Linked DNA regions of Homo sapiens: regions 1 and 2 are each linked to region 3. The links come from fine-mapping of genetic effects on gene expression. A gene starts in region 3. Each other region holds a variant in brackets. All regions are shown on one strand. Distances are between the middles of the regions.

Region 1 (10,376 bases), 63 kb after region 3:
TTTCTTACATTTATTATACTTATAATTTTTCTTTATATGATAATATTTGGAAGATATAGTACTTATTTCGTTTTTTAATTCCTTTTGCTGGATGAAACTTGCTGGTATACGTCATGATGAAACAGGAACTATTCCTTGACCCCTTTCATGGGACTCAGGACAGGGATGCCTTGCTTACTCAGCCTGCAGCTCTCAACCCCTCACAGGAGGGGGAGCATGTAGAGGAGTGGGTGCAGGAGCTGGAGCGAACACTTTTGGGTGCTGGCAGGAGCAAAACTCTGTGCTGCCCCCGTCTAGGGAGGTGCCTGTGACCCCTGATGCCCCAGAGGGCATGTGTTACAGTGCTCTTTTAGCTTTGCTGTCCACAGATGGCTTAAGTGTTCAACAGCTCAGTGGACCCTCTGCCTTTTTGCAAGAGCAGAGGGTCCGTGTGACAGCTTTCTGTATCCCGAGCTCTTGTCTGGTGTCCAGGAAAAATTAGTTCACATGAAGGATAATAAATGCTGGGGATTTTATTGCTGATGGAAGTGGCTCTTAGCGGGATGGGGAGCTGTAAAGGGGATGGAGTGGGAAGGTATCCTTCCCGTGAAGTCCAGCCATCTCAGGCCATACTCTTCTCCGAAGTCTCGCTGAGGTCAAGCTGCTTCTCTCCAATGTCAAGCCACAGTCTCTGACATCCAGCTGTTTCTCCTCTTTTCCCCTTCTCTGCTCTCTACTGGTGGAGCCTAGGGTTTTTGTGGGTACAGGATGTGGGCTGGGGTGGGCCATGGGAGGTATTGGAAAAGGCAACATTCAAGCAGGAAAACAAGAATGCATGTTCTCACTTTGGGCCATGGTTCCAGGCTCCAGGGTAGGGCTTCTCCAAGGGTCCCATCCTTTTCTGCCTAGAATTTTTCTGCCTCCTGTCCCTATCAATAAGATAATATATAATAATACAATAATTATTCTAATATAATAACACCTTCACTATGGCCATGTCTACCATTTTTGACAGTTAACGGCTCAGTTTCAGAAGAAACAGACTGGCTTACTCAATTGTGGCATTATATTTATTTATTTAGCCATAAGAAAGTCTATCTGGGGCTTATCATGAGAAGTTTGGGGTTTGCATGTGTATCTAGATATTTTAAACTATGTTTCCTAGATCATACCTAGGAAACAGGGAAACAGTCAGTGGAATCAAATAAACCACTATGAAAATACTAATTTTCGTTCACACCTCTGTATGTTTTATTTAATAAATTATGAGTAAAGCCTATTCAATTATTAATCTGGAAAATAATTAAATCAACAGTAATTTTTAACAACAGCAAATAGAAATAAAGCTAATTTTAAAAGTTCATCAATAAAAAGAACAGATTTTGTAGCAACACATTACAAACGGACAGGATTTAGGATGTTTCTAATTACTTTTAAATCTACATAGGCATTAGTTATTTTCTAAATTCAATCTTTGTTTACATGCACCCTCCAAGATCATGAAATGTGAAAAAGTGAAAGTAGGATTCTGCATATATAAAATTGCTTTTCATACTCAGATTCTGTGAATTAGGTGGGGTGAGGATAACACTCTTGGGAAATTGTGTTAACAACTTATTAATTTGAGTAGTACATGATCTCAACAATAATGAAGTTAATGACTCTCTATACTTATTTGATCAGTTACTGTAGTTCTCTTTTCATAATATTTATGTGCTTCCAAGATATAAATTAGTTTCCTGGTTTCTAGTTATTAATAAATATTTATTTGATACCTGATATTTAGTATTATATGCATGCATATTAATTTTAGCCTATGATAGCACTTGCTAGTATACTAAAGTTACTCTGGCTTTCAACAAAAGTGTTTATGTGAACATCAATACTGCAAAAATAGCCATGACTCACAGAAGAGTATTTAATCTTATGGAGATGACAAAGGCTCTCTTTAATAAACCTTTAATAACTCCAGGTGAGATTACATATAGATGTGATGAATGATTCAATAAATGTTATTTAATAGATACACTCTGTATCTAATCCTATCTTGGGATATTAGAGGGATAAAACATGGATGGGAGTGAATGTTGAAGACTTGGAAAACTGTCAATATCCTCAAGGCACTTAAAATAAAATTGGAAAGAATTATAAATTAGTGATACAAGATAGAACAAAATTGAGTGACAAACTGTGTGGTACAGATAGAGATGGATTTATGATGAAACTAATGAAGCTTAAGATTCAGGAAACCCTTACTAGAATGGGTCCCTCGAAAGACCCTAATGGGACTGTATCAATTGCTATGACTTCCAAGACATCACAGACTGGTTGTATTTTCCCACAATTTTGGAGGCTGGAAGTCCAAGATAAAGAGGTCAGCAGGGTTGATTTTTGTCTAAGGTCTCGCTCCTTGGCTTGTAGATAGCCATCTTTTCTGTGTGTCTTCACATGATTTTCCCTCTGTGTGTGGCTCTGTCCTAATATCTTATTCTTACAAGGACATTAGTCACATTGGATTAGGGTACACCCTAATGCACAACAGAGCACTAGTGATATATTTGCATCATCACATGGTTTTGCAAAATTTGTAAAACTAAGATTGTTGTGGTTTGGCTGTGACCCACCCAAATATTGTCTTGAATTCCCACATGTGTGGGAGGGTCCCAGCGGGAGGTAATTGAATCATGGGGGCTGGTCTTTCCCATGTTGTTCTCATGATAGTGAATAAGTCACACAAGATCTGATGGTTTTCTAAGGGGGAGTTCCCCTGCACAAGCTTTTTGCCTGCTGCCATCCAAGTAAGACATGACTTGCTCCTCCTTGTCTTCCACCATGATTGTGAGGCCTCCCCAGCCATGTGGAACTGTGAGTCCATGAAATGTCTTTTCTTCCCAGTCTTGGGTATGTCTTTATCAGCAGCATGAAAGTGAACTAACACAGTAAATTTGTACCAGTAGAGTGGGGCACTGCTGAAAAGATACCTGAAAATGTGGAAGTTACTTTGGAACTGGATAACAGGCAGAGGTTGGAACAGTCTAGAGGGCTCAGAAGAAGACAGGAAAATGTGGGAAAGTTTGGAACTCCCTAGAGACTTGTTGAATGGCTTTGACCAAAATGCTGATAACAATATGGACAATGAAATCCAGGCTGAGATGGTCTTAGATGGAGATGAGGAACTTGGTGGTAACTGGAGCAAAGGTGACTCTTTTTATGTTTTAGCAGAGACTAGTGGCATTTTGCCCCTGCCCTAGAGATTTGTGAAACTTTGAACTTGAGAAAGATGATTTAGGGTATCTTTTGAAAAAAATTTCTAAGCAGCAAAGCATTCAAGAGGTGATTTGGGTAATGTTAAAGTCATTCAGTTTTATAAGGGAAGCAGAGCGTAAAAGTCTGGGAAATTTGCAGCCTCACAATGCAATGGAAAAGAAAAACTGATTTTCTAAGGAGAAATTCAAGCCAGCTGCAGAAATTTGCATAAGTAATGAGGAGCAGAATGTTAATTCCCAAGGCAATGGGGAAAATATCTCCAGGGTATGTCAGAGGTCTTCATGATAGCTCCCCCCATCACAGGCCCAGAGGCCTAGGAGGAAAAAATGGTTTCATGGGCTGGACCCAGGGTTCCCATGCTGTGTGTAGCCTAGGGACTTGGTGCCCTGCAACCCAGATGCTCCAGCCATGGCTGAAAGGGGCTAATGTAGAGCTCGGGCCATGGTTTCAGAGGGTGCAAGCCCCAAGCCTTAGCAGCGTCCATGTGGTGTTGAGCCTGCGAGTGCACAGAAGTCGAGAATTGGGTTGGGCACCTCTGCTTAGATTTCAGAGGATGTATGGAAACTCCTGGATGCCCAGGTAGAAGTTTGCTGCAGGAGTAGGGACCTCATGGAGGAC[A/C]TCTGCTAGGGCAGTGCAGAGGGAAATGTGGGGTCAGAGCCCCCACACAAAGTCCCTACTGGGGCACAACCTAGTGGAGCTATGAAAGGAGGGCCACCATTCTCCATACCCCAGAATGGTAGATCCACTGACAGCTTGCACTGTGCACCTGAAAAAGCCACAGACACTCAACACCAGCTGGGGAAAGCAGCTGGGAGGAAGACTGTACCCTGCAAAGCCACAGGGGTGGAGCAGCCCAAGACATGGGAACCCACCTCTTGCATCGGCATGTCCTGGATGTGAGACATGGAGTCAAAGGAGATCATTTTGGAGATTTAAGATTTGATGGCCCTGCTGGATTTCCGACTTGCATGGGGCCTGTGGCCCCTTTGTTTTGGCCAGTTTCTCCTATTTGGAATGGCTGTATTTATTGAATACCTGTATCCCCACTGTATCTAGGAAGTAACTAACTTGCTTTTGATTTTACAGGCTCATAGGTGGAAGGGGCTTACCTTGTCTCAGTTGAGACTTTGAACTGTGGACTTCTGAGTTAATATTGAAATGAGTTAAGTCTTTAGGGGACTGTTGGGAAGGCATGATTGGTTTTGAAATGTGAGGACATGAGATTTAGGAGGGGCCAGGGGCAGAATAATATGGTTTGGCTGTGTCCCCACCCAAATATCATCTTAAATTCCCAAGTGTTGTGGGAGGGACCCGGTGGGAGGTAATTGAATCATGGGGGCAGGTCTTTCCCATACTGCTCTTGTGATAGTGAATAAGTCTCAGGAGATCTGATGGTTTTACAAGGGGGAGTTCCTCTCCACAAGCTCTCTTTTTGCCTGCTGCTATTCATGCAAGACATGACTTGCTCCTCCTTGCCTTCCACCATTATTGTGAGGCCTCCCCAGCCACGTGGAGCTGTGAGTCCATTTAACCTCTTTTTCTTCCAAGTCTTGGGTATTTCTTTATCACCAGTGTGAAAACAGACTAATACAAATATATATATATATGTATATATATATATATACACACATATATATATATACATATATATATATTTTTTTTTCCAAAAAAAAAGAGGTTTAATGGACTCACAGTTACACGTGGCTGGAGAGACCTCACAATCATGGTGGAAGCTGAAAGGCACGTCTTACATGGCAGCCGGCAAGACAGAATGAGTATTTTTAACCAATATCTCTTTTATATTTTCTCCCCACTCACTCTTCCTTGCATAGAATGGGACTCAAGTGACAACAGGCACATTAGGGAACTGGCTCAGAAGAAGTTCAGTTGGAGATTATTTAGTCTGACTTCAGTAGGATATATCTACATGATCCACAGTCACATTCATGTATAGTTATTATTACCTGCCCCAGGGTAGGAGTGGCTTCCACAAATATTCCTACCACCTTCTGTGCATACAACATGAAGATGAAAACCTGGAGTCACGTTGTGATATGAACAACAGCTACAGCTTCCAGCACTGGAAATATGAAGATAGTAGAGGAATAGCAAGATCTGAAATGTACAAAGCCAAAAACCCGTCTATGCAAAAGTCTTCCCATCATTAAATGTATAAAATTATAAAAAGAGGATTAAGTTATCCTGAGTCTAGTCAAATGTTCTCTACAGTTAGTATTACACTCAATAATGTGATTATAAAAGAACCATTTAAACTTTTTTATGGAAATAATATAAAATATAATTTATGCAAATTTATGTGATTGTAGGGCAGAGATTTATAGAAGTATGACAAACAATAAATATGTTTATTATGAAGTCATGTTTTATTATTACTTATTAATAATAATAGAAAAAGCACCAATTCTGATCAACTATCAAAGGTCTTTTTATGAATTTTAGCATCTATTGATTTGACCATATTGTCCTTTATTCTGTTGATATGATGTATCCCATTGCTTGATTTGCATATGTTGAATTATCTTTGCATCCCAGGGATAAATCCCACTTGGTCAAGATGAATGATCTTTTTCACATATGGCTGAATTTGGCTTGCTGTATTTTGTTGATTATTTTTGCATCAATACTCATCAGAGATATTGACCTGCAGTTTTCTTTCTTTGATATGTCTTTGGTTTTGGTATGAGGATAATAATGGCCTCATACCATAAGTTTGAAAGTATTCCTTCCTTCTCTATTTTTTGGAATAGTTTGAGTAGAATTGCTATTAGTTCTTTTTTACATGTTTGGTAGATTTCAGCAGTGAAGCCATTGAGTTTCAGGCTTTATTTGAACAATTTTTATTTCAACTTTGATCTTGTTATTTCTTATTTGTCTGTTCAGGTTTTGAATTTCCTCATGGTTCAATCTTGGTAGACTGTAGGTGTCTAGGAATTTGTCTATTTCTTCTATATTTTCCAATTTAATGGCATGTAGTTGCTCACAGTAGCCACTAATATTCCTTTGAATTTCTGTGTATCAGATGTAATGTCTCCTTTTTCATCTGTGATATTATTGATTTAGGTCATCTCTGTTTTTTTCTTAGTCTGGCTAAAGAACCGTCAATTTTGTTTATCTTTTCAAAAAAACAAACTATATTTTATTGATATTTTGTATTGTTTTATTCATTTCAAAATTATTTATTTGTGCTTTGATGTTTATTATTTCATGTTGTCACTAATTTTGGATTTGGTTTGCTCTTGCTTTTCTAATTCTTTAAGATGCACCATTAGGTTTGTTTTTTAAGTTTTTCTTCTTTTTTGATGTAAGCACTTACAGCTATAAACTTCCCCCTTAGTACTGCTTTCACTATATCCCATAGGTTTTGGTATATTGTGTTTCCATTATCGTTTGTTTCAAGAATTTTTTCCATTTTCTTCTCAATTTCCTCATCGACCCACTGGTCATTCAGGAGCATATTATTTAATTTCCATGTGTTTGTATAGTTTCCAAAATTTCTCTTGTTATTGATTTGTAGTTTTATTCCATTGTGTTCAGAGAAGATGCTTGATGTAATCTCATTTTTTGAATGATTTAAGGCTTGTTTTGTGACATAATATATGGTCTATCCTCGAGAATGATCCATGTGCTGAGGACAAAATGTGTACTCAGCAGCCATTGGATGCAATGTTCGGTAAATGGATCTGTTAGATCCATTTGGTCTCTAGTGCAGATTAAGTCAGATGTTTCTTTGTTGATTTTCTGTCTGGAAGATCTATTCAATGCTGAAAGTGGAGTGCTGAATTCTTCAGCTACTATCGTATTGTGGTCTATCTCTCTCTTTAGCTCTAATACTATTTGCTTTATATATCTGTATGATCCAGTGTTGGGTGCATGTATATTTATAATTGTTATATCCTCTTGCTGAATTGACCCTTTTATTATTATTATATAATGACCTTCTTTGGACTTGGACATTTGGGTTGATGATGGAATCAGTTAAGACTTTGGGGGACTGTTGGGAAGGTATGATTGTGTTTTGAAATGTGAGAACATGAGATTTGGGAGGGGTCAGGGTTGAAATAATATGGTTGGCTTTGTCCCCACACAAATCTCACCTTGAATTGTAGTAATCATAATCCTATATCTAGTAGGAGAGACCCAGAGTCCCCACTGGTGCACTGCCTAGTGAACTTGTGAAAAGAAGGCCAATGCCCTCCCCACCCTAGAATGGTAGATCCACTGACAGCATTTTATGTTGTCAGTGTTTGGAGTTTTGGCCATTCTAATAGGTAATGTAGTGGTATCTCAGTATTGTTATAATTTGCATTTTTCTTATGAAATATTATATTGAAATATTTTCACATGCTTCCTTGCTATCTGTTTATCTCTTTTGTTGCAGTATATGTTCAGGTCTTTTACCCATTTTTAATCAGACTTTTAATTTCTTATTCTTGAATTTTAAGAGTTCTTTATATATTTTGAATATTTTCTTATGAGGTGTGTCTTTTGAAAATATTTTCTTCCCATCTGTAGCTTGTCTTTTCATTCTCTTGGCTTTGTCTTTTGCAGAGCATAAGTTTTTAATTTTAATGAAGTCTAGCTTATTAATTTTTTGTTTCATGGATCATGCCTTTGATGTTGTATCTAAAAAGTTGTCATCATATCCGAGGTTATCTAGTTTTTCTCCTAAGTGATCTTCTAGGAGTTCTATAGCTTTACATTTTACATTTAGATCTATGATGCACTTGAGTTAAGTTTTGTGAAGGGCACAAAATCTGTGTCTAAATTCACTTTTTGGTATATAGATATCCAATTGTTTCACCACCATTTGTTGAAAAGACTATCTTTTCTCAATTGTATTGCTTTTGCTCCTTTGTCAAAAATCAGGTGATTATATTTATGTGGGTCAATTTCTGGGTTCTTTATTCTGTTCCTTTGATTTACTTGTCCATTCTTTCACCAAGATGACACTGTTTTTATTACTGTAGCTTTATAGTAAGTCTCAAAGTTGGGTAGTGTCAGGATCCTGATTGTTTTCCTTCTTCAATATTGGGTTGGCTATTCTAAGGTTTATATGGAAAGACTATCAGAGTATATGACCTCCCCATGTAAACTTTAGAATAAGTTTGTCAATAACCACAAAATATCTTGATGATATTTTGACTCGTATAGCATTGAATATACAGAGTTGGAAAGAACTGGTATCTTGACAATATTGAGTCTTCCTAATTATGAAAATAAAATAGCTCTACATTTTTAAGGTTCTCCTTTGATATCTTTCGTGAGATTTTTGTAGTTTTCTTCATATAGATCTTGTATATATTTTGTTAGGTTTATATGAAGCATTTCTTTTTTAGGGATGCTAATGTAAATGGCAATGTGTTTTTAATTTCAAATTTCTCTTGTTCATTGTTGGTATGCAGAAAAGTGATTGACTTTTCTGTGTTAACCTCATATCCTGCAGCATTGCTAAAATTGTTTATTAGTTCCAGGTTTTTTTTATGATTCAGATTTTCTACACAGAAGACCATGTTGTCTGTGAACAAAAACTATTTATCCCATCACTATATGTATATATTTTCTTTTCTTGTTTTATTGCATTAGCTAAGACTTTCCACGTGATTTTGAAAAGGAGTGGTAAGAGAGGAAATCCTTGTCTTATTCACGATCTTAGTTGGAAAGCTTCAAGTTTCTCACCAATAAGTATGAAGATAGCTCTAGGTTTTTTGCAGAGGTTCTTTATAAAGTTGAGGATGTCCCCATTCCCATCTGTAGTTTGTTGAAGGCTTTTATCATTCATGGGCATTGAACATTGTCAAATGTTTCTTCTGCATCTATAGATAAGATCATTAGATTTTTCTTTTTCAATCTGTTGATGTTATGTAGTAAATTAACTGATTTTAAAAGGTCAAGCCAACCTTTTATACCTAGGAAAAATCCGGCTTGTTTGTGGTGTATGTCTTTTTACATGTTGTTGGAATCACTTCTTAGTATTTAATTGAGCCTTTCTGTATCTGTGTTTATGAGAGATATTTGCTTATGGTTTACTTGTAATCTTATTGTCTGATTTTAATATTAATTTTGACATCATAGAAAAAGTTAGGAATATTCCCTCTGCTTTCAACTTTTGAGGTAGATTGTAGAGAATGTATATATTTATATATATAATACATATTTATTTATTATATATATTTATATACAATATATATTTATATAATATATAATTATATATAATACATATGTATATATTATATATATTTATATACAATACATATTTTATATTGTATATATTTATATACAATACATATTTACATATTATATATATTTATCTACAATACATATTTTTATATTATATATATTTATATATAATACATATTTATATATTATATATATTTATATGTAATACATATTTATATATTATCAATATTTATATATAATATGTATTTATATATTTTATATATTTATAAATAATACATAATTATATTATATATATTTATATATGATATGTATTTATATATCATATATTTACATATAATATGAAATTATATATTATATATAACTATATATAATATATATTTATATATTATGTGTATTTATATATGATACATATTTATATATTATGCATATTTATATATAATACATATTTATATATTATATATGTTTATACATAATACATATTTATATATTATATATCATATATATTTACATATAATACATTTATATAATATATATACTTATATATATTCATATATAATATATTTATGTATATATTTTATATAAATACATTTAGATATATTATATATATTATATACATGATATATATTTATATATCATATATATTTCTATATGTGATATATATTTATATATCATATATATTCTATACGTGATATATATTTATCTATCATATATACTTATAAATATAATATATATTTATATATCATATATATTTATATTATATATTCATATATTACATATTTATATATTATACATTTATCTATTATATATTTATATGTATAATATTTATGTAATAAGTATTTACATATAATACATTTATATAATACATATTTATAAGTTATATATTAATATAATACATATTTATATGTTATATATTTACATAATACATATTTCTA
Region 2 (10,376 bases), 89 kb after region 3:
CAGAGGTAAAATGCTATGGTCTGACTGTGTCTCCCAATGTTGATGTGTTGGAAACTCAATCCCCAGTGCAGTAGTTTTAGGAGGTAGGACATTCAAGAGGTAATTAGGTCATGAGGGAGTGGGTTTGTTATTGTGAGTGGGCAGTTATGAAAATGAGGTTGGCCCTCTCTTACTCTTTCACTCTTACCCTCCCACCTTCTGCCATGAGATGATGAAGGATGAAGGCCTTCACCAGATGTCAGTGTCATACTCTTGGACTTCCTAGTCTCCGGAACCATGAGCCAAATAAACTTCTTTCCATTATCTTTTTTTAAAGACAGCCTCACTGTTGCCCAGGCTGGAGTGCAGTGGCATGATCATAGCTCACTGCAGCTTTGAATTCCTGGGCTCAAACAATCCTTCCATCTCATCCTCCTGAGTAACTGAGACTATGGGCACACACCACCGTGCCTGGATAATTTATTTTATTTGTTATTTTTTTGTAGAGATGGGGTCTTGCTTTGCTTCTCAGGCTGGTCTCTCAAACTCCTGGTTTTAAGTGATCCCCTTGCCTTGGCCTTCTAAAGTGCTGGAATTTACAGGCATGAGTCACCATGCCTGGTATAAACTTATAATGTTTATAAATTACTCAGGATGTGGAATTATGTTATAGCAGTACAAAACGGAGCAAGACAAAACCAAAATGAGGGTCGATGCCTGTCATATTTCTCAAAGTCTATGCCATGCTCCTCAAAGCATTCATACAATAATTAAATGCTGGTAACATTTGTCTCTGTAGACAAATATTTTTGGTTTCTATTATTAGACAATAAGAACTATAAAATCCCATAATGTTTTCAATTTATGTTTGAGTCCAAGAAGATGAGCACTAAATTTAGGGCTCAATTGCAACTAAATCAACCTGAAACTCTTAGCAAAATTCAATTTTTACTAACAAATGGCATTTAATTTACATAGGCTTAGCTTTAATATTTAAATCAATTTATATAATTTTAATGAATGGTGATACTATCAATTAATAAAAATGAATTTAAAATAAGCAAAAATATACATCTTTTAATAATTTCAGATTTTTTTTTTTTTTTAACTTTAAGTACTGGGATACATGTGCGGAATGTGCCGGTTTGTTACATAGGTATACATATGCATGGTGATTTGCTGCACCCTATCAACCCATCATCTAGGTTTTAAGTAAAAATCATATGCAGATAAGAATGCAGAAAATATAATTAGAATTTGGAAGAATTATAAATGAAAATATAAATGTTTATTTTCAAGTGCTTTTGCTCATATTTAAAAATTCAGTATTTGGAATTTAAAGGTCTCTGCTTATTTTAGAGTTATTCCAAAATAACTGGGAATGTCATGGTTCTAGTAATTTTTTTTTAACTAGCAAGACAAATATGTCTAAAGAAGGATTAAGCTTGTTTGTTGATGTGGAATTGTCAGTAATGTGTTTAGGGTGGAAATGTATTTCAATTTTTTGGTGCCTTTCCTTGAAAACTATAGAGTCTTCAGAGGCGTTTTCCCTAAGGGTCATACCATGTAGCTATCTTAAAGGGAAAAGAACTTTATAAGTAAGTACTTCTGATGCCTAAGGAATTAGTACCCTCATACTAGTACCTTTTTATATGGTTTAATTTTCCATCTCACAGTAACCAGTTTTATGTCATATGGGGAACAAATGCAGGGTCATTCTTTCTTTTTAGATTTGAGACAATTATCTGTACTATTTAAGTAAAAAGTAAACTGTGTGCTCCAGAGTGGCTGTCAATATTGACTAAATTGACAGAGCAATTACTCAACTTTCTATTTCATTTGCCTTTGTACACATAGCCACAAATCAACTGGCTCAGTTAACTTACTCTGAGGAATTAATTTCCTTTGAAAACCTAACTTTTTAGCATGGTACAATTTAATAATAAAGTAGAAATATTTACAGTGGGCAAACTTTGAAAATAAGTATAAAATTAAATTTGGTACTCAGATACTTGATATAAATTATGGTTATATTCATTTCAACCATTGCAATGACTCAAGCAGATTTATTCATTCAACAAGCATTCATTGAGACCTAATATGTGCTTTTCACCGTGCTAGATCTGGGGACACAATATAAAATATCATGTGTCAGCCTTCAACAAATTCATAGTCCAGTGGGAAAATCAGACACAGAAAGAGATAATTATACAACAATATGGTAAGTGCAGTGATAAGGTTGTATAAAATAGTGTTTCAAGAAAATTAATGTAGTGGCACCATGTAAAGTGCATTTGAGTTAAGAATATGACATTAGTAATATAAAGTAAGTATTATTACTATTCCTTTTTTATGTATAAGGAAACTTCAGAGGCTCAGAGAGATTCAGTCATAGTCTGGGATCACTGAGCTTACACATTCATGTGTTTATTCATTGATACATTCATTCATCAGAAACGATTCTGTAAGCCACGAACAGAGCAGTGATCAAAACAAACTGGATCCTTTCCTTATGGATCTTATAATAAATCCAAAAGTGCTCTGAGAATTCAGAGAAGAAGAAGATAATGCTACATATTTGAAATTTTAGAACGTGCAATTATACATTAAGAGGCAGAGCTAACAGGCTGGGCTCATCCCACTTGTCTGAAATGTAGTTCTTCTATGTTCTGCCAGCCAGGCTATGGAGTATGGAGTGGGCTTTCATGATGTTTATACATATATGGGCCTGCAGCATTTACTGAGTTATATTGTCTGAGTGGAATTTAAAATACATCATGGCTGTATAAACAATGTGATGAATAACATTAAAAAGTTAATTCTAATTAAAATCCCAGGGGTAACTAATTAGCATATGAAATGTCTTTATCTGAAGCAACACTTGGGGCTAATTAGCAGGTGAGGTATCTTAAATGAATACATCAACTTAGGGTTGGCCAATTTGCACAGGAATGTTAAAAATATTTTTTGATTGGAAAAAATAACAGTATTTTAGATATGTGATTGTCTGTGAATAGTGCAAGAGGACCAACCTCATTGGTATGAATAAGGTGTTGGAAATCTGCAAGGTGTTGGAAATCGGAAGTCTTGTGTCATAGGTACATTCCAGGACTGAAACTTATTGGTCTTGCATCTCCTTTTCACTGAAAATCTTACCCCTTGATAGGACGACAAGCTTCCACATTCTGCCATTTAGGTGAAAGAATGCAATTGCATTTGTTTTAGAGTAAACTTTTTATGCAAGGTGGACTTAAGGATAGAAAGAGGGGCCTCTTTTATCTATAAACAGGTTGTGAAGAAATGTGAGTACCTTTGTTGGAATTTGGTCTGAGGATTGTTTTCTCCTCATAGCCAGGTTTTTAGGGTTAAGGACAGATAGCCTCTATCTGTTTTTTAGTTACTGGTGAATACTAATTTTTATCAGAAAGACCTGACATTCACAGAATCACGAAAACAGGCTCAAGCCTGTTTGTTGTGGTGAAGAATTCATTGCCAACTGGGAACCAGAATCCACAATTCCCCAAATATCAAACTATCCATGATCAGAATGTTGGTGGTCAGTGGGAAGGAAGGAATTTATGTTCTTGAGGAAGAATAGTCAGCTAATGGTCGTATGGTTTCTATCCTCTAGAGAAAGTTAGAACAGAGCAACAATACTTTGCTTTTATTCCTGAATGCTTCACAAAGATGGTAAGGGTTCATTATTTCAATCAGCCAATACTTACTCTTTTCTTATTAGTCAACCTTGATTATATACTGAAATTGACTTTATAGGGACCCCGTCTTAGTCTATTTTGTGTTGCTGTAACAGAATACCTCAAATTAGGTATTTTTCTAATCAATGAAAATATTTTTAAAAACTTTTTATAGAGACATGGTCTCTCAATGTTGTCCAGGCTAGTCTTGGACTCCTGACATCAAGCCATCTTCACGTCTCAGCCTCCCAAAGTATTCAAATTACAGGCATGAGCTAACTCCACACAGCCATGTAATTTGTAAATGATAAAAGTGTATTTGACTCACGGTTCTGGAAGCTGGGGAGTCCAAGAGCATGGCACCAACATTTGGTGAGGGCCTTCCTGCTGCATCATCCCATGGTGGAAGGTGGAAGGGCAAGAGAGCATGAGAGCAAAACAGCAAGAGGGAGCTAAACTCGCTTTTGTTATAAGCCCCATCTAGAGATAAAAGAACTCATTTCTATGATAATAACATTCATCCATTTATGAGGGTGGAACCCTTATGACCTAATCACCTCTTATTAGTTCCTACCTCCCACCATTGTTACTTTGGGGATTAAGTTTCCAACATATGAAGTTTGGTGAACACATTCAAACCATACCAGACCTCTAACTTCTAACTGGTTGTAGATCTTGATGAAGACATTTCACAGCACTGCACTCAGTTTTGCTAGTGGTTTCCAAATTTCTCTCTCCTATCATTTGTTTTGCAATTTAACCTTTTCTTTTTACATCACAGTTCTGGAAGTTGTGTAACCCTAGACTCAGGCTAACAAGTAATTGAGTAATTGTGACACTGCTTTAACATACATAACCATTATTTCATTCAGGAAGTTACCTTTTCCTTCAGTCTATCTGAGGAAGTAGCCCTGGCTGCTCATTACTTCCTCCTTATGCTAGTCTCATCACTTTTTGGAGGATTTTATCAAAGAGATTATAAACAGACAAAACTTGATGACTGGTTGAATACTGGGAGTCATTTTGAAAGAGCAGTTAAATATAATGCCTAGGCTTCAAACCTAGGATTCCTGAAGTATATTAGTACCATTAATAAAAATGAAACTGAAAATAGGACCTGGCATAGCAGTCATCTAGAGTAAGTGAGACTGTATCTTATAGATATTATTTGCAAGTTATTGGACTAGAAGTGAGAACAAACTTCCTGCAAACATACTGCTTAATGAGTTCAAGAACTAAGGCTGTCAAGGTTAACATTACTTTACTATTTCAGGACATTATTGCCTAGGAAAATAAAGTTGCAACAAGGTTTTTATCTGAACAATAAGCTGATCAGTTAGCTGCCCTGCTCAAGGCAAGAAGTTACTCATCAGGGTAAATATCACCATTCTCAGGATGACAGATCACTCAATGTGCAAACTGCTTGCTTATCAAATGATTACTCATCAGGACACTTCAAAATTCTTGCTTTGCTGCATTCACCAATCTAAAAATCTGTGTTACAACTTTTTTTTCCGATTCCAGGCAGATCCCTTCTTTGAAAGACCTTCCTTAAGACAAATCCCAAAACTGTATGAAGATCTGCCCTTTCCCTTCCCCTTCCAAGACACTACTAAAAGTCTATCAAGGTGGTGTTTTCTCTTAATACAACACAGAATACATTCAACTTTGTCAGATCAACAAGATATTTTGGTGGTCTTTTTAGGGGTCAGCAGTCATAGATGTGATAGTTAAAGCTATGAAAATAAATTAGTTTTTTTTAGGGATACGCATAGCATGAGAATATAAAATGGCCTAGGAGAATGCACACAGAAAGTGAAAGGAAGAAGATGAGCCAAAGAAGACTATAACAAAAGAGAAAAACAGGATATTATTATAATTTAGAGCCAAGAAATGAGAGAGAACTTCTGTATTGGTAGGGTGATCATAATTGTCATGCATGAAAGGTTTAGAATAATGAGAATTAAAAGGAGACTGTGAAATTTGTTTAAAGGAAGTTTAGGAAACTTCAAAGAGAACAGTTAGGCATGGAGTGGATCTTTGGTTATTAAATGTGGCCAGTGGGTCTATACTAAATCTAAAAGAATTTAACTGAGAAAAGAAAGTGAAAATACATTACCATAGTTGAAAGAATCCCCTAAATCAAATTTGGCTTAGTGAAGCTTCCACTGGACTGGAGATATTCAAGGTAGTAGAGAAATGACGTAATGGTGCAAATGATTTAAACCAGACTTAAGCAAATTTTTTCTGTCAAGGGCCCTTCTGTCTGTGTCACAACTAGTCAACTGTGCCATCATAAAGCCAAGGAGGTAGCTAATACATAAATGAAAGAGTGTGGGAGGATGTGTTCCAATAGCACTTTGTTTAAAAATTGGTTGGCAGACTAGATATGACTCATGGACTGCAGTTTAAAGACCAGTGATTTAGACTAAGAAAGTGTTATGAAATAAAAGAAGTCTTTTGCAATCCAAATAGTCATGATAGTTGTCGATATTAAATACATTAACTGGACTTGAGCAACTATTCACAGTGTTTATAAAGAATGCCTGAAATTGCAGCTTCTGAAGACAGCTCTTCATTTTTCCCTAAAGAAAAATATTACAGAGCTGAAGCTGGCATATGATCTGTATGCATCTTGATCACCATACTGGATTATCCTACACTGAAATAAATAAGTCTTTGCGTGACACCACATTTTGCATAAAAT[G/T]TATGTTTCCTAAATTAATAGCTTTTGTCAACTTAGAATTTTAATCAATGCATGCTACTTTGTTATTCAAATCTCCTGAAAACGAGAATAGAAAAAATTAAGATAATTAATACAAATTAACAAGATACTTAAGTTAATCCATTGAGTACTTCCACATTCACGTTTAGACTTACATAATATTAATGCCCTAAAAGAAGTTTGGATAGTGTTATTCTGAATAGGGAAGTAAATGACGGAAAAAGGATATTGCAATAGGTGTGGCTTGTGAAGCTCAACTATAGAAGTTTTAAAAATTTACTTTGTAATTCATTTTAACTTTAATTATCTATGAATCACGCACGTTTCATAAACTAGATGCTTGCAAATAATGTGTTTTGGGGATTGATATTATTGTCAAAGTGGAACTAAATAGTGATATTTAGTAATAAAGTTACAACAAAGTACTATATGCATTATAAACTAAATAATGAAACCATTTTTAAGATTAAGAAGTCTAAAAAAGGTGAGGTGTCTATATAGCTTTTTTATGTTTATTTAATCATGTTTAATCATGAACATGCACAATCATAGCATTTTATGTGCCTTTTATTTATTATAGATTACACTGTTTTGATTACTTAATCACTTTCCCTTTTCTTTAAATTTTATTTTTAATTGATGCATAATAATTATACATATTCATAGGGGACAATGTGATATTTCAATACATGCATGCACCGCATAATGATCAAATCAGGATAATTAGCATATCCATCATCTCGAACATTATTTTGACTTAGAATTAAGAAAAAACAAAACTTAAAATGTACTACATTGCAACATATAGGCCAAGTACTTTATATTGCAACACTATATTTTGTTTTCATAACAAATCTTATAAGTATTATTATTATTGTCATACTACAGGTAAGAAAAGTAAAGCACAAAATGATTATTAAACTTTGTAATAGTAATGGAGTTACTATTACAGTTCTGTCATAAATGGCAGAACTGGGACTTGACACAGTTCTATCTGACTTGAGTTCCCAATCACTAAACTACCCTAATATATCATCTCTGAAGAAAACTATTAGAGATAGGGCTGGGAAGTGCAACAATACAACTCATTAAGTAGTAAGTGTCTAGTATATGCCAGGTTCTAGTCCCACACTGGATATGCCAGATTTCCTATGGAAGAATTTTTTTTTTGACAGAGTCTCCTTGTGCCACCCAGGCTGGAATGCAGTGACATGAACATGGCTCACTGCAGCCTTAACCTTCTGGGTTCAAGTGATCTTCCCATCTCAACCTCCCAAGTAGCTGGGACCACAGATGCACGCCACCACAGTTTGAGTAATTTTTAAATTTTATTATTGTTACTTTTATTATTTTTTCTGTTAAATAGAAATAGGGTCTCACTATGTTGCCCAGGCTGATCTTGAACTCCTGGCCTCAAGCAATTCTCCTGCCTTAGCGTCCCAAAGTGCTGGGATTATAGGTGTGAGCCACTGCACCCGGCCTGTATCTTTTTTTTTTTTTTGGTAGGGGGCGGGGGGAAAATTCTTTTACCATTCAATAAAAGTTAAAATATGATTAAATATATAAACACTGAACATTTCAAGATCCTTTTGTGAATATAAGCTAGTAATACAAAGTGTTTTACCTCAAACTTATCACCAGCTGAGTGATTTCAACAGGACAGCATGGGATATATCAGAAATATCTGAGAAGTCCTTCTTTGTGAACTAGACTGTGAATTCTTTAAGAGAAGGAGGACTAGGATGTTCCTCACCTTTGTATCTGTAATGTCAAATATAATGCCTATCACAAAACACAAAATGCTAGATGCCCAGGGGAACCAGTCTCTGACCAGTCACTTACCATTTGTGTAGCCTTGGGCCAATATATCCTGTTTCATTATTTGTAAAATATGGTTTTCTGCCAGGTAATTGCAAAATCTGAAAAAGATATATATTTTTTTCTGTTATGCAGCTTCCCATCTAATGTGTGGAAGACAGAAACATATTAATACTTATCCTGTCTTGCTCACAGAATTGGTGTAAAGGTGAAATGACATACTGTACATATATTACACATTATAAAATTCTCCACAAAAATTAGTATTTTAATTTTGATCATGTATGGTAATTCTATCTCAATTATTCTTGAATTATTGCTGTTGGCTATTCAGAGTTTCTATGATATGTTATGAAATGCTCACAAATATAAAGTTGTTATCATCCATCTATTAGTTTGGATTATATTGGTTGCAAGAGAAATCCAACTCCCACTAGCTTAAGAGGGAGAAGTGAATATATTAAATACATGTAGAGTAGCTCTCCTAATCAAGAAAGAAAGAAAAAAAAAAAGCTATAAGGACAGGGCAGCTATAGGAATCTCAAGTATGCAAAATACAATTTCAATCCTATGGGTCTTTTTTTTTTTTCTCCCTTTCTCTTTTTCTCCCTCTTCTACCCACTATTGGTTGCTTTGAATGTTAGTTTCTTCCTTTCAGCCTTCTCCACTTTGTGGAGAAAATGGCCTCTGACACCCATAGAGTCATATTCTTATAGTTCCTTGACATCCCTACAATTCCATAACTACAGGGAAGAGAGACACTTCCCTACCACATTTAGCTGAATAATCCCGAGGAAGACCTCAGATCGTTCTGGCTTGTTCATCCGTGGGCCAATCAGTGGGATCATACAGCTGGGTTGCTATGATGGTCTCAGCCTAGGTCACAGGCTCACTTCTTTTTATAAGATATGGGGCTGGGAGAATATCCTGAGCATGACAAAAACAGTAACTACCACAATACCATAGCTTCATTTGCTTAATGCTATATCTATTAAAATACAAGTTTATTGATAGGATAACAAAGATCATCTCTGTTTCTCTTATTCTATGGTAATACTTGCAAGCTGGATCGGCTACATAATTTGCAAGGCCTAGTGAAAAATGAAAATATGAGACTCTTTGTTCAAAAAGAAGAAAAATGTGTAGTTTAGGGTATTAAAATATAAAACTTTTTTTAAAAAATATTTCATTACTTATAAACTTAATGGGGTAGATACATGAATAACAAGATGAACTTAATGCAAAGAAAATAATATTTTGGTGTAATAATTTTATATAATATAATAAATGATTTTATTTATTTATTTATTTATTTATTTATTTAATTTATTTATTTATTTATTTATTTATTTATTGAGACAGCGTCTTGTTCTGTCACCCAGGCTGGAGTGCAGTGGTCTGATCTCAGCTTACTGCAACCTCTGCCTCCCAGGCTCAAGTGATCCTCCTACCTCAGCACCCCAAGCAGCTGGGACTACAGGTGTGTGCTACCATGCCGGGCTACTTTTTCTATTTTTTCTAGAGACAGGGTTTCACCATGTTACTCAGGCTGATCTCAAGCTCCTGGGCTTAAGCAATCAGCCCGCCTTGGCCTCCCAAAGTACTGGGATTACAGGTGTGAGCCATCGCGCCTAGGCAATCGTACTTTATTAACATGACATCTTGATCCGTCAGAAGATTTTTCTGGCTCACTTTTCTGTACATTTATTTATTAAAGTCATCAAAATACACACTTTTAGCCACTTAAATTTCAATTGCTATAATTGAAAGTGGTGTCAGTTGCTCTTGGCAAATACAAGAATGCAAATAATTTTTGATAATTTTTAAGTTTTTAGAAGGATCTTTCTGCTGATACCACTGTTAAGAGTATTACATAGGCTATAATAATATTGAGATGATTTCTGATAAATTAGGTCTAAATATAAGTTTTAGTACATGTGGAATTTATATTTCTTGCAGAACAATTTTTCTAAAAAGATTTAACTCTTCATTCAAATCAATTTCATTTAAGACTAAATTTAATTGTAAATGTAAATTTATATGATGGAATTTTAATGTTTTCTCTGACATTTTCTGTAATTTGAGAAGGTGGTAGAAGAAACTGAAAGTGGTTTCATGATTTATTTCCAATTCAAAATGGCTGTTTATGCATTCTATTG
Region 3 (10,376 bases):
GTTGTTAAGAATAATTAAAAGCTGTGTGAAGCCTTTTATAGCATTCACCTGCTCAAACTAAGCATGGTTCTAGCTGGTTATATTTGATATTTACTTTCCTCTGTTCTAAAAAAAATCAATGGAAAACAGAAAGGAATAAAAATAATATATTAAGCCAGGATTCAGAATATTTTTACCTTTTAGGGGAAGGAAAAATAATAGCAATCTCCATTCAAAGTAGTGATTTAATCTAACACTCAGAAGCTGTAGAAGATTTAAAGAAATTGTGGTATATGTGAGCATTTCTGAAATTTGATTCCTTTTAATTTTTATAATCAGCAGTTACACTTCCAGTCGTGGGTATATGCTGTTGGTCACAATTGCTAAATTCTGTACCTTACAATATTTTTCATCTGCCTGTAGTCATACTAGGAATCCAGTTTAAACCTTTCTTCTAAATGTTAAGTGATGGGAAGCTTTTTAAGTACGCATGGATTATTAATTTTGTGGTTAAAATCCACAGCAATTTAACAAATATATATAATTTTAATAAAGCTATTGTACATGTTTTATATCTGATTCAAGGCATTCACAAGCAATTGCTTCCGTGTGTGTGTGTGTGTGTGTGTGTGAGAGAGAGAGAGAGAGAGAGAGAACAAATATGAGTACTATAAGAAAATTTGTTTTCATCAAAAAAATTAATCACTGACTCAGTTATTCAAAGTACTGGTCTTCTTTTGACCTCTGGTCATTTATAAGTAAGTAAATAAATAAATGCATAAATAATAATAATTAACTTGTTTTGGGAAACTTTAGGGAATTTATTAACCATAATCTATACCAACTACTTGATAGCTTTACTTAAATCTGAAACTGAATGACTTAGGAAAAGCAAGCTTCAAGCAAAAATTATATGGACTCCAAATGTCTATCTCTAACATAGAATATGAAAAATGTTTGTTTTATTAATTAACACTAAAATTTCTTACTACTTCCAAGTTTTTAAGGCTGTCACAGAAAATAAATTTCCACTAAGTTTTCTGTTTTCAGAAACAACATATCAGGAATGTTTTGCAGTTTGACAATTTAAAGTAATATTGTATAGAATAAACTTGAATGCTAGACTGTTCTGCTTCAGCAAGAATCTTTCTGGTAAAGGTATCAGAAAGGATCAATGACTATGAGGGAAACTATGATTATGTCGGTGTTATTTACACATATAATAGCTGAATTGAAACACTGAGAATTCTAGGGTATTCAGACTGAATTAGGCCTTTGAATGTGATGATAGTTATGTATAATACAATTTTATTTTAATACACCTAAACGTTTGAATATTTGAAATCTTAATCACCTTTACAGCACAATGATTCTACAAAGCATTCTTTCCTTTAGCCTCACTGTATATTTTGTCAAATGACATGACTGTCCCTAATTCATAATTGGAACCTAAACCTAATGGAAAATACTACTTCATGTATGCAAAAATATTTGTGGGGTTTTTTTCTGCTATGTATAGCTGACATTGTTCTCAGGACTGGACTCTACTAGTTTTATTATGAAAATGTTAACATTTCTTCATAGAGTTGTTTTATAGAAACACCTGTTTTTCAGAAACATTCTGGGGAACAACCTGAAAACTTTTAAATAATATTTAGAGCATGGATTTATTTTAGGAATTACCTGATCCCTTTTTAAATGCATATTTCGACTTTCTTTAATCATGAAAAGTTTTCAACATTATTTTGTCATACCTGAAAGCTTTTAATTACTCTTAAAAACCCCAACTTTGCCATAGTAAATTATTTAATGCATCACAAAATAGTGTTATGAACTTGAACTAAAATGGCAAAATTGGGATTCTGTTTCTCCAGTTATGTACTTTGAGGGTCTTACTATGCCTTATGAAAATTCATTTTTCCCCACGTTGCAGATATGAAGAGCAAGGAGCGGGGGTGAGCAAGCAAGCAGATGCTGGGTAATCATGGAGCAGAAGTTAAAGGTGTGGATCGCCTTTTCATTAATTTTGTTTTTTAAGCCTTTCCCTCTTAGACTCTTCCCTTTCTTGGTAACACTGGAGTATCTACTGCTCCAGATCAGAAGACTTCGGACTAGGAAGATGAACTGGGCTATTTCAGCCAAAAAATATAATAGAGCAGACATTTGCCATGTTCTCCTCAAACACGTTAAGAGTAGCAATTGATTCTCACAGTACATTGTTACCTGGCTTGTTAATTATAATCATAGAACAAGAGTCTAAAATTCAAGGAAGCTGTCTGCGACACTTACTCGTCACAAACGCGATCAATTAAACGCTAATCTAACAGTACCTATTAGAGTGCACTGGGATGTTTCGTTTCCTTTTGGTCTTTAAAACCAAATGGCTACTAATTTCCTTTCTGTAGCACTGAGAACTTCTCTTTGTATTTCTTTGGGCCACCTCAAAAACACCTCCAGGTTGGTATCCCAGGAAAACAACGGTTAAGTTCAGGACGTTTACTGACCAATTGCTTCATATTGGAGATGTAGAGCTTTTCTACCCCTATTAGCATATCGCCAGTAGCAGTGATGCAGATCTGCTCAACCCGAAGCTGCCGACGGCGAGTACGAGCTGCAAACCAGCCCCCGCCCCCGCCCCTACTCTCCCAGTGGCGACACAGACGTGGAAACATCTACTAGTGGAGTGAGATCCTCTGTCTCCGCAATTGTAAACAACTGACTGCATCGGGTTCACTGAAATGTTTAAATACACTCCTGACTGCAAACACATCCACTCACCAAGTAGCGCTAACAATCTCCCCTTCTCCGCCTCTAGGCAAAGCATCCTGAAACTAAATTGGCAATCCTCCTGTTATGGAGTGGAAGAAAGTGAGGTTACATTTCCCCAAGCCTGCCTAGCGGGTGCTTGGCGCTCGCAGATATGCTGGCCGTTGCTGAATCTCGGGGACCAAGTCTCTGGATGAAATGCGGAAACACACAAACCCGCACATTGGAGCGCATGGTTAAAGTCAACACCGACGGCTCCTGGAGCACCGCCTGGGTTGTAATGACTATCTCTTTTGACAAAGATTGACAAAGGTATAGGGAGGACGCATCGGGTGGGGCCCTCGACGGCGGCGTAGGTTAGGAGGTCCTGCAGTTCCCCCGGGAACCCGGGCTCCCTGAGTGAGGCTCAAATAGAAATTCAGAAGCAAACAGGTACTAAAGTGCGTCCTAGCCCTTGGGCATATTCTCTGCGGAGACAGCAGGACCTGGACCCCAGTGGCAGAGCCCCAGGCGAACGCTCCAGGGTGGGAGGGATGCCAGAGAAGCGCCCCTTTCTTTCTTTTTAGACCGAGCCTCCCATCCTCACCCCAAGCACCCAGGTCCACTTGTTAGAGTGACTGGGCTCTGCGCGAGAGCCGAGGCGAGGAGGCTCCCTCTCAGAACTGAAGGAGTTGGTTGGTAAAAGTGCCGCCTGGGAAGCCCAGCGAGCCCTCGAAGGGCAGCGTCCCCAGGGCCCGCTGGAAGCTTGAACTGCGAACAAGGCCGACCTCCCTTCTGCCCCAGATGGTCCAGAGCCCCATGGCCGGCGGAGACCGGGAGAAGAAGGATGCGGAGGCTCTGCCACCTCGGGCAGGAGTCCCAGAGCGGACTCAACCGGCCGCTAACAGCCAGGAGCCGCCATCCGCCGCCTGCAGCCTCGGGGCGAAGTTCGCCTGTAGTCCTTGGGGTAGAAGGTTGGGGGTGGCGGGCGGGAGCGAGAAGGAATGGGGTGGGAGCCAGGAGAAACGCACCTACCTATTCCAAGCGCAAGTTTCGGCGGCGTCCCCAGGTGCTGTTCCCCCGCCCCCTCGCCAGGTGCTCGGCTCCGCCGGGCGCTGCCAGTGCCCGGGACTTAGGGCGTCTCGGCCGACTCCTGCGGGAAACGACTGTAAATCCACATTACTGTTCGAGCTGCCGCTCGGGCCCCCGCATTGCTCTCCTCCGGCTGCTGGCAGCGGTGCTCTAAACCGGCGGCCGCCGGAGGCAGGAACCGAACCTAGCTACTATTGCACCAGCGGACGACCGCTGCCAGAAGGGTGCTTGCGCCCAGGGTCCTATGTGTGTGCGAGAGAGTGTGAATACGTGTGTGTGTGTGAGTGAAAGAGAGTGTTCGTGTGTGAGAGAGCAGAAGGGGTGAGCTCAGCCCCCGGGGCACTCGGAGGTGAACTCCGGGCTGAGCCGAAGCTCGCCGCGCTCCCGGGTGCTGGGCGTCTGCTCGGCTGATGGCTGGGCTGATGTTGCCGTGGCCGCCGCCGCCGCGCTCTAAGGCTGGTCGCGGTGGTGCAAAAAATGTTTCTCCGCTACTCGAGACCAAAAAACCTGCCCTGTCTACTGAGCATGCCCGGTTTGACAGCTTCACAGCCGAGGTTTTTTTTTTTTTCTCCTTTTCCCCAAGACTCCAGGTTTTAGCCGCAGCTGAGATGGGAGGTGGAGGGAGGTGGGGGGAGGAGGAGAGGGAGAGGAGGAGGAGGAGAAAGAGGAGAAGGGCTTAAGGAGCAAGTATCGGGCAGAGGAAGGGAAGTCGCAATGAGAAAGATCAGGGTGTTATAGGGTGGAGAGGGGAAGGAGAAAGCTGGATATGGAAGCAGAGGAAGGAAATATGGATCAACAAAATTTAGATTTCCTACTACAGTGGATAGATGCCTGGCCAGGTGACTCACTCGATGTTTTTTTTTTTTTTTTTTTTTTAATTACTTTCTCCTGAGGGTGAGGGGTGGGGTGGGGGGTTCGGATGAGTATTTGTCAACCCCAGGATCAGCCTGGGACAGTGTTACCTAGTCATGACATACACAAACATCGCGTGCACACACACGCGCGCGCACACGAGCGCACACACAGGAGCACAATCACTGCTTCTATGTTCAAAGCCTCAGGACTGACTTAGAATGCGAAGTCTTTTGCCAGTATAACTTTGGCAAAAAAAAAAAAAAAAGGGCGGGGGGAGAGAAATTGTTTGGTTTCCTTTTCTTATTCTCCTCTCCCCCGCCTTCCAGAAAAGCCAAAAGCCCGTGAATGCGGTGCATAAGCGACCCACAAGCTCTCGTGCGTCTGTCGGTGAGAGTGCACCGCCGACTGCGTCCTGCTGACAGTGTGACCCCAGAGCGCCAAGGCCGGCCGGCCACATGCAGCCTACTGGCGGCGCATCAGATCAGCAGTAACGACGTCCACCTGAAGGTGGTTGGGGGAAGAGGGGAGCGCTAAGGGATCCTGCCCTGCCTGGCCGCCCAGGTTCCTGGGCTCCCTAAACGGCTCCGCCCCTCACCCAGCCTGGCACCAGGGCACGTACTCGGGCGAACCCAGCGCGCTGCCCCAAGCCCTGGATCCCTCCCTCCCTCCCAACCCTCCTCAGCTTCCTCGAAAAAGCGGAGAAGCGGAATCTGCACGCCCAGAAACTCGCGTCAGAAGCCTTAGTAGTCCGACTGGGCATGCTCGGGACTTGGGGCGCTTCGCATGGAGGCACTCTCCAGCGGCTAACATCTGTCCGACTGGGCCAGATGTGAGTCTGAAGTAGGAGGCTTGGATGCACGCTAGAGCAGGCTCTGGTTCCGGGAGGGGTGGCGGCGACGCCCACAGCAGTCTTCTTTCCGGCTTCCCACAGAGAGCAAGACCGTGGGAGATACCAAGTGCCGAGCCAGGGGAGCTGCACAAACTGGAGAAATAGGAGTCTAGCGGATTCCCAGGCCTCCTGCCCCGCGGTGCCACCCCAGCCGTAGGCAGGTAGGGGGCGCGCAGAGCAGCTAGGGAGCACCGCGTGTGCTCCCAAGGGACTGCTGACCTCTAGGTAAAGAAAAGAGAGCGTGAAGAGTCGAACATTCTTTGGGCGAAGGACGTTTACTGATTTTTTTTTTTTTAAGTAAAGAAAGAAGGGCGTGTGTGAATGCGTATATGTGCACGCACGTTTTAAATTTTCCTCCGCAAGAACAGGGACAGGAGAGCGAGAAGCTATTGCCGAGTTGGGAACCCGCTAGAGGTTACAATAAGGCAGGCTTGGAGTCGTGGCTGGTGCTAGTTACCGGGAAGAGTTCCTCTTGGCGCGGTGGGCGAACACCAAAGCTTCCAACTGTTCCCTTCCCTGGGTGGCGGCAGCTGCCCAAGGTCGGCTTCCGGGCTGGTCTCTGTGCTCCTGAGCAGGGGGACCAGATTCAGTTTCAGAAAGAGAGGTAGTACAGAGTGACGCCAGGGGGAGTTCTCTGAACCGTGTGTTCCCATTTTCCCAGCTTTTGATATAGGTATTTGCAAAGAGGGAGCATTGTAAGACCATCACACCACCAAGGGGAGGAAATACAAAGAGCTGAACACTCTAGGGGGAAGAATCAGGGAATCAAGAGCACGTTTATTCCCATCGTCCCTTCCCAACAAGGTCTTCAGCTTCAGGCAGGAATCATTTGGATCCCTGCGGCTCAACACCCTCCCACTCCCGTCCCGCCCCACCGCCCTGCCAACAAAGAAACAAAAGATGACAACCAGGCTCTGTAGGGGCATAGCAACTGCTTCTATCACCGGCTCTCTGTTGGGCTGTTGAGAAAGCAGTAGTGAAAGGATGGGTATAAAACCTGTGTCTTGCCACAAATATGTAAACGAAACCTTCCTAAAACCCACTACCCTCCTACAAAACAAAAACAAGTTATTTGTATAAACATATATAGATTTAAGTATCCTAAATAAAGATTCCACATTATGAACTGCCCAAACCCTGAACTGTGGAAGGAAGACTTTCAGGATACCTCCTCAATCCTTACCAAAGAGTTCTGGAAGGAGAAAAAAAAGAAACATCTGGCCAGTCACTTCTCCAATGACTGGAAATACTCTGGGTGTTTCCGTAACCAGCGATTAAGAAAAGAACTCCCCATAACAAAAAGGGAATTCTGGCCAAATGGGACATGGACAAACCCTAATGACCAAGGAAATGGAATATGAATTTAAAAGCATGATTATCTCACTCTCATTCTTGCTGTTCCTTTGTTACTCTTCTTGAAGATACTGGCAGAAAGGGAGAGTTGATACTTAGGGATTTCATGAAAGGAGGCCGAGTTTGTTTCTCTCCTGGCAATTCAGCAGTCCCTGTAATCATTTTTTTTTAGAAATTCTCTACCACCTCCTCTTTATGCTGTATTTTCTCTAGCATTCTTCCCTCTCATTTCCTTACTGGTCTCCTGTGGCTCCCTGGTGTCCTTAATTCATTTGGTCTGCACCTGTCTCCCTTTAGTTCCTTCAAAACATTGTTTCCAGTCCTAATTCCGAAGTACAGAGGGCTCTGTCACTTTTCTCTGTTTCCTAAGAACTGATTTGCTGCTTCTAGACGCCTATATCCTGATATTGTAGGTGGATTTCCTAAGGCATTTATTCAACTTTAGAGATTCCCCAGACACATTTAAGCAACATGAAATTGCAGAATTTTCAAGTAGTTTTGCTCATGGGACCAAGAATTTCTATTTCAAATATGAATATCAGGAAGAAGACACACTAAATTGCTAGTTTCAGAATAGCCAATGTAAATATAACAGATTGTAATGGAGCATGCAATCTCTATATGACAGTTGTCCAGTTGCCAAGTGTATATTATTAAAATAATTTGCTAGGAATTTTAAGATATATACCTTTTTGTTAACAAAGACACACACACACACATGCACTCATACACCTTTTTATGTTTATTCCCAAAACTAATGTAATTACATAAATTCAATTCAGCAAGTGATTATGGAACATCTACTATATTCCAGGAACTGTGCCAGCATTGGGAATAGGCAAAGAAATTGAGACTTAAAGAAGCTAAGAAATGTTCAAAGATGTGTGAACAATTTGCTAATCAACAAGTATATACTGTGTGACTGTTACCGTGTATCTAGACTATTTCACTCCTAGAGAACAATATTTAGATGTTCTGGCCTTGATTTTTTAAATATATTTTTAATCTATAGGTTGCATTCTGTGAGAAGAATGCATAATGGAAAATATGACATGTCAGTTTTGTTTCTAAGTACCCTCATAATAAGAATGTAAGTACAATAATATTTGTATTAGTCTATTCTCACGCTGCCAATAAAGACATACCTGAGATTAAGTAACTTATACAGGAAAGAAGTTTCATTGTACTCACAGTTCAGCATGGCTGGGGAGGTCTCAGGAAACTTACAATCATGGTGGAAGGGGAAACAAACATGTCCTTCTTCACATGGTGGCAGCAAGGAGAAGTGCAGAGCAAAAGGTGGAAAAGCCCCCCATTATAAATCCATCAGATCTCATGAGAACTCACTCACTATCACAAGAATAGCATGGAGGCAACCACCCCTATATTCAGTTACCACCCACAGGATCTCTCCCATGAAACACAGAGATTATGGGGACTACTATTCAACATGAGATTTGGTGGGAACACAACCAAACCATATCAATATTAGAAGACTAAAGTCAATATCAATTACATAAACAAAATCAATGTGCACCATCTGAAATGAAGGAGTTTTGTTTGGTTGCTTGTCTAATGGCAAGATGTTTTCAAAGGCATAATTTCAACATGTACTCGTTGTGGTAGACTATTATTTCCTATTTCAACTGATAACAACACCATCCAGAGATCAACTAGCAGAGATTATGAGTAGTGCTGGCACCTTAACTTTTGGCTACAATGATTGGAAGCAGGAAAGGTAGCTTAATGATTTTCTACCCAAACAGCTTCCATAAACAGGGCTGTAAAATTGCAGTCACCAGCTTGCTGCAAGGGAGTGCCCATTTCCGGCCAGCTGTGGGCTCCCCCTGGGGAAAGCAGCCACCTTGGAGGAAGCTTATTTGAGCCTGGATATGAACAGTTGGTGGCCAGGATTCTGCATCCATCTGTTCAGAACAGAGTCAGACACACTATTTTTCACATACCCAAGTAAGGCTCAGGAAAACAACTGGCAAGCCAATTAAAGTCTTCTCTTTACCTAATCCTATTTAGTATCCAAATGGACCCTGTGGAGCTACTTCTCTGGCCAGAGTGCGAAGGAGAAACAAAATGCCTTTAAAAAAAAGTTTGGGCTTTAGCAAGGCACTTTGTATTCCACACAGCAAGTTCTGCTCATGGAAGTGTACATTCATATATAATATCCCTCACTGGAAAGGCTCCATCAATGCTGCTTTACCTTACTCTCAGAATAAAATACATCCCTAATACAGACTAATCATAACCTTCAGAAACCAAAGCTTCTCAATAGGGTGCAGTGGCAATTCATTTGTATTATTGCTATAATGGATTCAAATAACTGCCTAAATTTAAATTTATAGATAGTTTTAAAAATGGTACCTTGGTCCTTAATTTATATAAAATTCACTTATATTCACTATCCATACACATAAACCAATATGGCAATAATAATAATTTATACCCTCATAAAGATAACATAGTGCCTTCCCTTGAAGATCTGAAAGCTGACTTAATGCTAGTGTTTGTCTTTTTATTGGAAATACTTTTAAGAATATTACTTTTTAGCATTTTTTAACTATCACAGTTGTTGAAAAGGGGAAAAAAATTGATTTCAAAATGTACCGTGATTTCTCCTTAAGAGATAAAATTACACTCCAGGAAAAGAACTTGAAAAGAGTATAGAACAATTAGTATTACTCGGTTGGCATTTAAATGCACTTGAACTTCTCTCTAACTTTGTGACCTCATTATCATAATCTTTTAAGTGAATTATTGTGATTGACTTATACAGGTAACTACTAATTTGTATTGAAATAACTAAAATATTTAGTGCTTCTAAAACACATGCTTAATAATGGCCATAAGAAGACTTTTATAGTCACATACATTAACAATTACTAACAAATGCTAACAATTATTAGGATAGTCCTTCATAAGCAGATTTAAAAGGCATTTTAAATGAAAATTTGGAACTAGGATGTTATCATTTTCCATACAACACAATAAACATGAATAATTTCTTCTCAGACTAAGAAAATAGGCTCCCCGTATGTATCTTCATTCTCTCATTTATACTTTCACTAAGTAAAGATTTACAGAATACCTGCTATGTGCCTATTCGGTGCTAAGTACTGGGAAGACAGTGGTAAACAAAACATACATATTCTTGCCCTTGTAGAGTTTACAGACTACTGGTAGGAGACAAACAGAACCAATCATACAACGAAATATGTAGTTCTAAACTGATGGGTGTTCTGAAGGAACAGAACAAGGTATTTGCAAGAGAACAACAGAGGAGACCCATTTCAATTGAGGTTGAGGTGGTTGGGTAGGCATTCCTGAGGCAGTGGCTATTAATCTGAGGCCTGAAGAATGTGGAGTAATTGGCATTCCAGGCAGAGAGAACAGAATCTATGGTATTTGATGTAAGGAATGTCTTGGTACCTCAAATAATGCAAGGTCAGCC

Evidence for each region. PIP is the estimated chance that this variant, and not a neighbour inherited with it, causes the effect.
Region 1: its variant is the best candidate, but not a certain one, in a credible set for the expression of TENM1 in whole blood (TOPMed, PIP 0.75).
Region 2: its variant is the best candidate, but not a certain one, in a credible set for the expression of TENM1 in blood mononuclear cells (TOPMed, PIP 0.54).

What each region holds. Positions count from the first base shown.
Region 1 is chrX:125,262,772-125,273,147 of GRCh38, forward strand. No RefSeq gene overlaps it. Among named protein-coding and RNA genes, the nearest start is that of TEX13C, 52 kb to the right of the region's middle. The variant A/C (reference allele first, on the strand shown) is at 3,865.
Region 2 is chrX:125,289,536-125,299,911 of GRCh38, forward strand. No RefSeq gene overlaps it. Among named protein-coding and RNA genes, the nearest start is that of TEX13C, 25 kb to the right of the region's middle. The variant G/T (reference allele first, on the strand shown) is at 6,382.
Region 3 is chrX:125,200,045-125,210,420 of GRCh38, forward strand. It overlaps TENM1 (teneurin transmembrane protein 1), which reads right to left and starts at 4,268. Exons shown (of 35, transcript NM_001163278.2): 1 at 3,760-4,268. It overlaps LOC124905211 (a long non-coding RNA gene), which reads left to right and starts at 4,416. Exons shown (of 2, transcript XR_007068314.1): 1 at 4,416-4,655; 2 at 4,998-8,076.